2 linked regions of the Homo sapiens genome follow. The protein of the gene in region 1 interacts with the protein of each later gene in a pairwise test. Each region holds a gene or a part of one and is shown in the gene's direction. Other genes may lie near its edges. The genes, in order: FBXL12 and FBF1.

Region 1 (3,470 bases):
GAAAAGAAAAACCCATTTTCTAGGGAGAAATTCAAGCCAGATGCAGAAATTTGCATAAGTAGCAAGGAACCTAATTAGGACCATGGGGAAAATGTCTCCAGGCCATGTCAGAGACCTTCACGGCAGCCCCTCCCATCTCAGGCCTGGAAGCCCAGGAGGAAAAAGTGGTTTCCTGGGGGCCCAGGGTCCCTGTGCTATGTTCACCCTGGGACTTGGTGTCCTGTGCCCTAGCTGCTCCAGCTGTAGCTGAAAGGGGCCAACGTATAACTCGGGCTGTGGCTTCAGAGGGTGGAAGCCCCAAGTCTTGGCAGCTTCCACATGGTCTTGAGCCTGCTGGTGCACAGAAGCCAAGAACTGAGGTTCAGGGCCAGGCACAGTGGCTCACGCCTATAATCCCAGCACTTTGGGAGGCCAAGGCAGGCGGATCACTTGAGGTCAGGAGTTCAAGACCAGCCTGGCCAACATGGTGAAACCCCATCTCTACTAAAAATACAACAAATGCGTGGTGGCGCATGCTTGTAATCCCAGCTACTCGGGAGGCTGAGGCAGGAGAATCGCTTGAACCCGGGAGGCAAAGGTTGCAGTGACTCAAGATCGTGCCATTGCATTCCAGCCTGGGTGACAAGAGCGAAACTCCATCTCAAAAAAAAAAAAAAAGAATTGAAGTTTAGGAACCTCTGCCTAGATTTCAGAAGATGTGTGGAAATGCCTGGATGTCCAGGCAAAAGTTTGCTACAGGGGTGGGGCCCTCATGGAGAACCTCTGCTAGGGCAGTGTGGAAGGGAAATGTGGGGTCAGAGCCCCCACACAGAGTCCCTATTGGGTCACTGCCTAGTGGAGCTGTGAGAAGAGGGCCACTGTTCTCCAGACTCCAGAATGGTAGATCCACCCACAGCTTGCACCATGCACCTGGAAAAGCTTCAGACACTCAACACCAGCCTGTGAAAGCAGCTGGGAGGGAGGCTGTACCCTGTAAAGCCACAAGGGGCGGAGCTGGCCAAGACCATGGGAACCCACCTCTTGCATCAGTGTGACCTGGTTGTGAGACCTGGAATCAAAGGAGATAATTTTGGAGCTTTAAAATTTGACTGCCCCACTGGATTTCAGACTTGCATGGGCCCTGTAACCCCTTTGTTTTGGCCAATTTCTCCCATTTGGAATGGCTGCATTTACCCAATACCTGTACTCACATTGTATCTAGGAAGTAACTAGCTAGCTTTTGATTTTATAGGCTCATAGGTGGAAGGGACTTGCCTTGTCTCAGATGAGACTTTGGACTGTGGACTTTTGGGTTAATGCTGAAATGAGTTAAGACTTTGGAAGACTGTTGGGAAGCCATGATTGGTTGTGAAATGTGAAGACATGAGACTTGGAGGGGCCGGGGTGGAATGATATAGTTTGGCTGTGTCCCCACCCAAATCTCAACTTGAATTGTATTTCCCAGAATTCCCATGTGTTGTGAGAGGGACCCAGGGGAAATAATTGAATCTTGGGGGCTGGTCTTTCCCATGCTATTCTCGTGATAGTGAATAAATCTCAAGAGATCTGATGGGTTTATCAGGGGTTTCCATTTTTGCTTTGTTCTCGTTTTCTTAATTTTTTTTTTTTTTTTTTTTTTGAGATGGAGTCTTGCTCTGTTGCCAGGCTGGAGTGCAGTGGTATGATCTCAGCTCACTGCAACCTCTGCCTCCTGGGTTCAAGTGATTCCCCTGCCTCAGCCTCCTGAGAAGCTGGGACTACAGGCACGTGCCACCACACTGAGCTAATTTTTTGTATTTTTTAAATTAATTTATTTATTTTTCTTTGAGTCGGAGTCTTGTTCTGCCACCAGGCTGGAGTGCAGTGGTGCGATCTCAGTTCACTGGAACCTCTGCCTCCCGTGTTCAAGCGATTCTCCTACCTCAGCCTCCTTAGTAGCTGGGACTACAGGCATGCACCACCACACTCGGCTAATTTTTTTTTGTATTTTAGTAGAAACGGGGTTTTGTCATGTTGGCCAGGATGGTCTCAATCTCCTGACCTCGTGATCCGCCCGCATCGGCCTTCCAAAGTGCTGGGATTATGGGCATGAGCCACTGCGCCCGGGCTTCTTTCTCATTTTCTCTTGCTGCCGCCATGTAAGAAGTGCCTTTCACCTCCTGCCATGATTTTGAGGCCTCCCCAGCCATGTGGAACTGTAAGTCCAATTAAACCTCTTTTTCTTCCCAGTCTCAGGTATGTTTTTATCAGCAGCATGAAAATAGACTAATACAGTTTGTATTACATGGGTATATATATGCATGTATAAAAGGCAAATGTAAGCATGCTTTCTGAAGGATTGATGATAAGCTATTTTCTTCAGTGAATGGAAGAGTTTGATGTAGAAACACCTTTTTGGCCGGGTGCAGTGGCTCATGCCTGTAATCCCAGCACTTTGGGAGGCCGAGGTGGACAGATCACTTGAGGTCGGGTGTTTGAGACCAGCCTGACCTACATGGAGAAACCCTGTCTCTACTAAAAATACAAAATTAAGGCCAGGCGCGTGGCTCATGCCTGTAATCCCAGCACCTTGGGAGGCCAAGGTGGTTGGATCACGAGGTCAGGAGATTGAGACCATCCTGGCTAACATGGTGAAACCGCGTCTCTACTAAAAATACAAAAAAAACATAGCCGGGCATGGTGGCATACGCCTGTAGTACCAGCTACTTGGGAGGCTGAAGCAGGAGAATTGCTTGAACCTGGGAGGTGGAGATTGCAGTGAGCCGAGATTGCGCTACTGCACTCCAGCCTGGGCAACAGAGCGAGACTCTGTCTCAAAAAAAAAAAAAAAAATTAGCCGGGCATGGTGGCACATGCCTGTAATCCCAGCTACTCAGGAGGCTAAGGCACGAGAATCGCTTGAACCCAGGAGGCGGAGGTTGCGGTGACTGAGATCGTGCCATTGCACTCCAGCCTGGGCAACAAGCAAAACTCCGTCTCAAAAAAAAAGAAAAGAAAAGAAACACCTTTGTAAGCACACATAAAGAATATGTTATTAGACAATTTTCCTTTTTCCATTAGGCCCTATGATGCCAAGTAGAGAAATCCAGCAATAAAAGGCAGATGTAAGCATGCTAACTTTTTCTTTTTAAGATAAACTGTACTTAGAATGAAATGCCCAGTGCTATCAATTATATATATTTTTTATTTTCTACTAAGTCTAACTTCCCAGGGTTGATTTTTGCAGCTTCCACTCTACCAGGCTTTGATATATTTTTTTTTTTGACATGGAGTTTCGCTCTTGTTGCCCAGGCTGGTGCAACGGCACGATCTTGGCTCATCGCAGCCTCTGCTTCCCAGGTTCAAGTGATTCTCCTGCCTCAGCCTCCCAAGTAGCTGGGATTACAGGCGTGCACCACCACACCTGGCTAATTTTGTATTTTTAGTAGAGACGGGGTTTCTCCATGTTGGTCAGGCTGGTCTTGAACTCCTGACCTCAGGTGATCTGCCCG
Region 2 (3,815 bases), on another chromosome or scaffold:
AACGGGGACAGGAGCATCTGAGTCTGGCCCAGCAGAGGCTGCAACTGGACCGCGCACGACAGGACCTGCCCTCTAGCCTCGTGGGTCTGTTCCCCAGGGCCCAGGGCCCTGCAGCCTCCAGCCAGAGTGGTGAGTGGCTCCAGAAGGAAGGGCCGGCGGCTCAGGACTGGGCAGGGGCAGTGCTAGGAGTGGGCAGGCCCTCCTCCAGCCGCTCCAGTTAAGGCGGCCAGCTGGGTTTTATAGTCGCCTTATTTCTTTTTTACACAAATAATGTGTGTTAATTTTAGATAAATCAGAAATAGAGGAACACTATTATGAAAAATGTCACCTTTTTGTAACTCTGGACTCAGGAAAAAAAAAGGAAATAAAAAAAGTCATTGTCAGGCTGGGCGTGGTGGCTCACGCCTATAATCTCAGCACTTTCGGCAGCCGAGGCAGGCGGATCATCTGAGGTCAGGAGTTCAAGACCAGCCTGGCCAACATAATGAAACCCCGTCTCTGCTAAAAATACAAAATTAGCCGGGTGTGGTGGCAGGTGCCCGTAATCCCAGCTACTCAGGAGGCTGAGGCAGGAGAGTCACTCGAACCCGAGAAGTGGAGGTTGCAGTAAGCCGAGATTGTGCCACTGCACTCCAGCCTAGGGGACAGAGCAAGACTCCGTTTAAAAAAAAAAAAAAAAAAAAAAAGTCACCCTCAACGCCACTCCTGAGTCTTGAGAGAACCACTTTTCACTTTTAACATTTTGGTGCATAATGTTCCACTCTGGTACTTTTTTTTTCTTTTCTTTTTTGAGATGGAGTTTCACTCTTGTCACCCAGGCTGGAGTGCAGTGGCATGATCTCGGCTTAGTGCAACCTCCACCTCCTGAGTTCACGCGATTCTCTTACCTCAGCCTCCCAAGTAGCTGCGATTACAGGCATGTGCTACCATGCCTGGCTAATTCTGTATTTTTAGCAGAGATAGGGTTTTGCCATGTTGGCCGGGCTGGTCTTGAACTCCTGACCTCAGGTGATCCACCCGCCTTGGCCTCCCAAAGTGCTGGGATTACAGGCATGAGCCAACGCGCCCAGCCTGGTACATGTTTTTAAAAACAAAATTAGGATTGTATGTGTTTTTCAATAACTTTACTTTTTTTACTCAGTAATGTACACGTGGAACAGGTTTTCAGATCAGTCATTAAACATTTAGTCAATTCCCAATCAGCACAGTTTTCCACTGTGAGGCTGCTCTGTGCTGAGTGATTTGTTGTCTTAAAGAGAAAGACTACCCAGTGGACATCTTCCTACATATGTGTTTGTACCTTTGCCTGATTATTTCACTGGAATAAATTCCTATAAATGGTCTTTCCAGGTAGGAGCAGGTATGCATTTGCCAGAGGCTTCTGAGAGTTAGTGCCATTGCACCCTGAGTATATGGCCAGGGTCCACCCACTGGCGGGGGGAGCAGCTCTGCAGGAACAAGCTGTGACCGCCCGGTATTTCCACCAACACTTTGGTCCCTGACTTCCTCCTTGGCCTTTTCAGCCCTCATGCCTCCTGCTCCCACCACCCGTTGGTGCAGCCAGCCGCCAACTGGCCTGGACCCCAGCCCCTTGCACCTCCATGCCAGGCTGGCACTGCTGAGGCACATGGCAGAGCAGGTGAGTCTCTCCTGGCCTTGGGGATCCTTGTGTTCACGAGTCCTTCCAGCTCAGGGCAGAGGCAGGGAGGAGCACATGGTAGCCCTGGGGAGGGGTGACCCCAGCTCCTGGGGAGTAAAACTGCAGTTTGCTTAGTGAGCCAATGCTCAGACTTCCACACTAGGCCAGGTTCTGTGCAAAGCAATTTGCATATGTCATCTCAGTTAAACCTCATGATAACCTATAGCAATAATGATAACAGGCTGGGCACAGTGGCTCACACCTGTAATCCCAACACTTTGGGAGGTTGAAGCAGGAGGATCACTTGAGCCCAGGAGTTTGAGACCAGCCTGGGCAATATGTTGAGACACCGTCTCTACAAAATGAAAAACTAAAAAAAGAGGACCAGGTGCGTGGCTCACACCTGTAATCCCAGCACTTTGGGAGGCTATGGTGGGAGGATTACTTGAGCCCAGGAGTTCGTGGCCAGCTTGGGCAACATAGTGAGACCTCGTCTCCACAAAAAAATAGCTGAGCGTGGTGGCATACACCTGTACTCCCAGCTACTCCGGAGGCTGAGGTAAGAGGATCACTTAAGCCCGGGAGGTCGAGGCTGCAGTGAGCCACAACGGTGCCACTGCACTCCAGGCAACAGAGCGAGACTCTGTCTCAAAAAAATAAATATTAAAAATTTAAAAATTAGCTGGGCATGGTGGGGCATATCTATAGTCCCAGCTACTTGGGAGGCTGAGGTGGGAGGATTGCTTGAGCCCAGCTGGTCGAGGCTACAGGTGTGTTCACACCACTGCACTTCAGCTTGGGTGACAGAGCAAGGCACTTGTCTCAAACTAAACAAAACAAAACTATAATGATAACAGTTGTCATTATGGAGCATTTCCTGTGTGCCAACCTCAATGCCGAAGGCTTTGTTTATATTTTACTTATTTATTTATATTTAGAAATGGGGTCTCACGATGTTGCCTCGGCTGGTCTCAAAGTCCTGGGCTCAAGTGATCCTACCCCCTTGGCCTGCGGATTAGCTAGGATTACAGGCATGAGCCACTGTGCCTGGCCTGCTTTGTGTATTTTTTAAGCTTTTACCCTCACACAGCCCTGCAAGGAAGGGCTACAAGGAATGTTTACAGACAAGGAAACTGAGGCTTAGAGACATGAAGTCATGTGCTCGTAAGTTCCACAGCAAACAAGTAACCTTGCCAGGATTGAGACTGTGGTCTGTCTCACTCCATACCTGGGCTCTTTCATGGCCCCTGCTGACTCCCAGAGCCAGGCAGAGTCAGGGACGATGTGGGGAGGGGCCTCAGTGACGGCTGGCTCAGCTAGCATCCAGGGCTCCACCTCCCTCTCAGCTCAGGGAAGGTGACCGCCCATCCAAACCTGCCTTGCAGGACCGTGACTTCTTGGAGAATGAACAGTTCTTCCTGGAGACCCTGAAGAAAGGGTCCTACAATTTGACATCTCATTCAGCCTGAGTGGGACCCCAGCCGATTCCCCAACAGAGGGTTCGGACCCCAGAACTGTCCTGTTCCTCCGGCTGCCTCCATGGAGGCAGTGCCTGGGGAGGATTCTGAGATGCTTGAGGCCTGATGACAGCTCTTCCGTGGACAGGGTGCAAGTGCATCCTTTCCAAATGTGCCAGCCCGGGGCAGCCCCTGCCTCTGGGGCTCTGTGGTGTAGGCTATCTTACCATGGCTTTGGCTGCCCTGCCCCAAAGCCATTGGCTTGGATCTGAGGGTCTGAGTTGGCAGCAAGGACCCCCAGCTCTCACTGGGCTCTGTGGGCTCCCCCTGGGCTCTGTGGGCTCCCCCTGCTCCACAGGTAGACTGTTGTGGGCTCTTTTTGCCTGGGCCTCTTCTGAGGCAGGAGCTTTCTTGAGGGATGCCACAAACAGCCTTCCCTACTCCCTGCCAGAGCAGTTCCCTCCCTGATGAGCTGGAGAAGGGCCCTCTGGCCTCCTGACAGTACAGGGAGGGCACCAGCTAGATCCTCCCTTGTGGTGTGAGATGTTCCTGGAACTCAGCCAGGCCCTCCTCCTCCTGGGCTTGCCCAGAGCCCCCACCCTATTCCCAGCATTGCCCGAAGGACCAACCAGTTTGGGTGAACAGTGGCCTCCTCAGCTTCCTCCCCATCTGGGTGCCCCACCGGCGGCGGAGGGAGCTGTGGCGATGGTGGGGTGTGG

The links.
Region 2: the proteins of FBXL12 (region 1) and FBF1 interact in a two-hybrid assay, tested with the Homo sapiens proteins (one large-scale study listed by BioGRID and IntAct).

What each region holds. Positions count from the first base shown.
Region 1 is NC_000019.10:9,812,844-9,816,313, reverse strand, and holds part of FBXL12 (F-box/LRR-repeat protein 12), read left to right. Parts: exon of another isoform or gene 1-2,143; coding exon of another isoform or gene 2,144-2,176; intron 2,177-3,039; exon of another isoform or gene 3,040-3,083; intron 3,084-3,470. UniProt on the Homo sapiens protein: Substrate-recognition component of the SCF (SKP1-CUL1-F-box protein)-type E3 ubiquitin ligase complex.
Region 2 is NC_000017.11:75,910,016-75,913,830, reverse strand, and holds part of FBF1 (fas-binding factor 1), read left to right. Parts: intron 1-11; coding exon 12-129; intron 130-1,523; coding exon 1,524-1,639; intron 1,640-3,024; coding exon 3,025-3,108; 3' UTR 3,109-3,815. UniProt on the Homo sapiens protein: Keratin-binding protein required for epithelial cell polarization. Involved in apical junction complex (AJC) assembly via its interaction with PARD3. Required for ciliogenesis.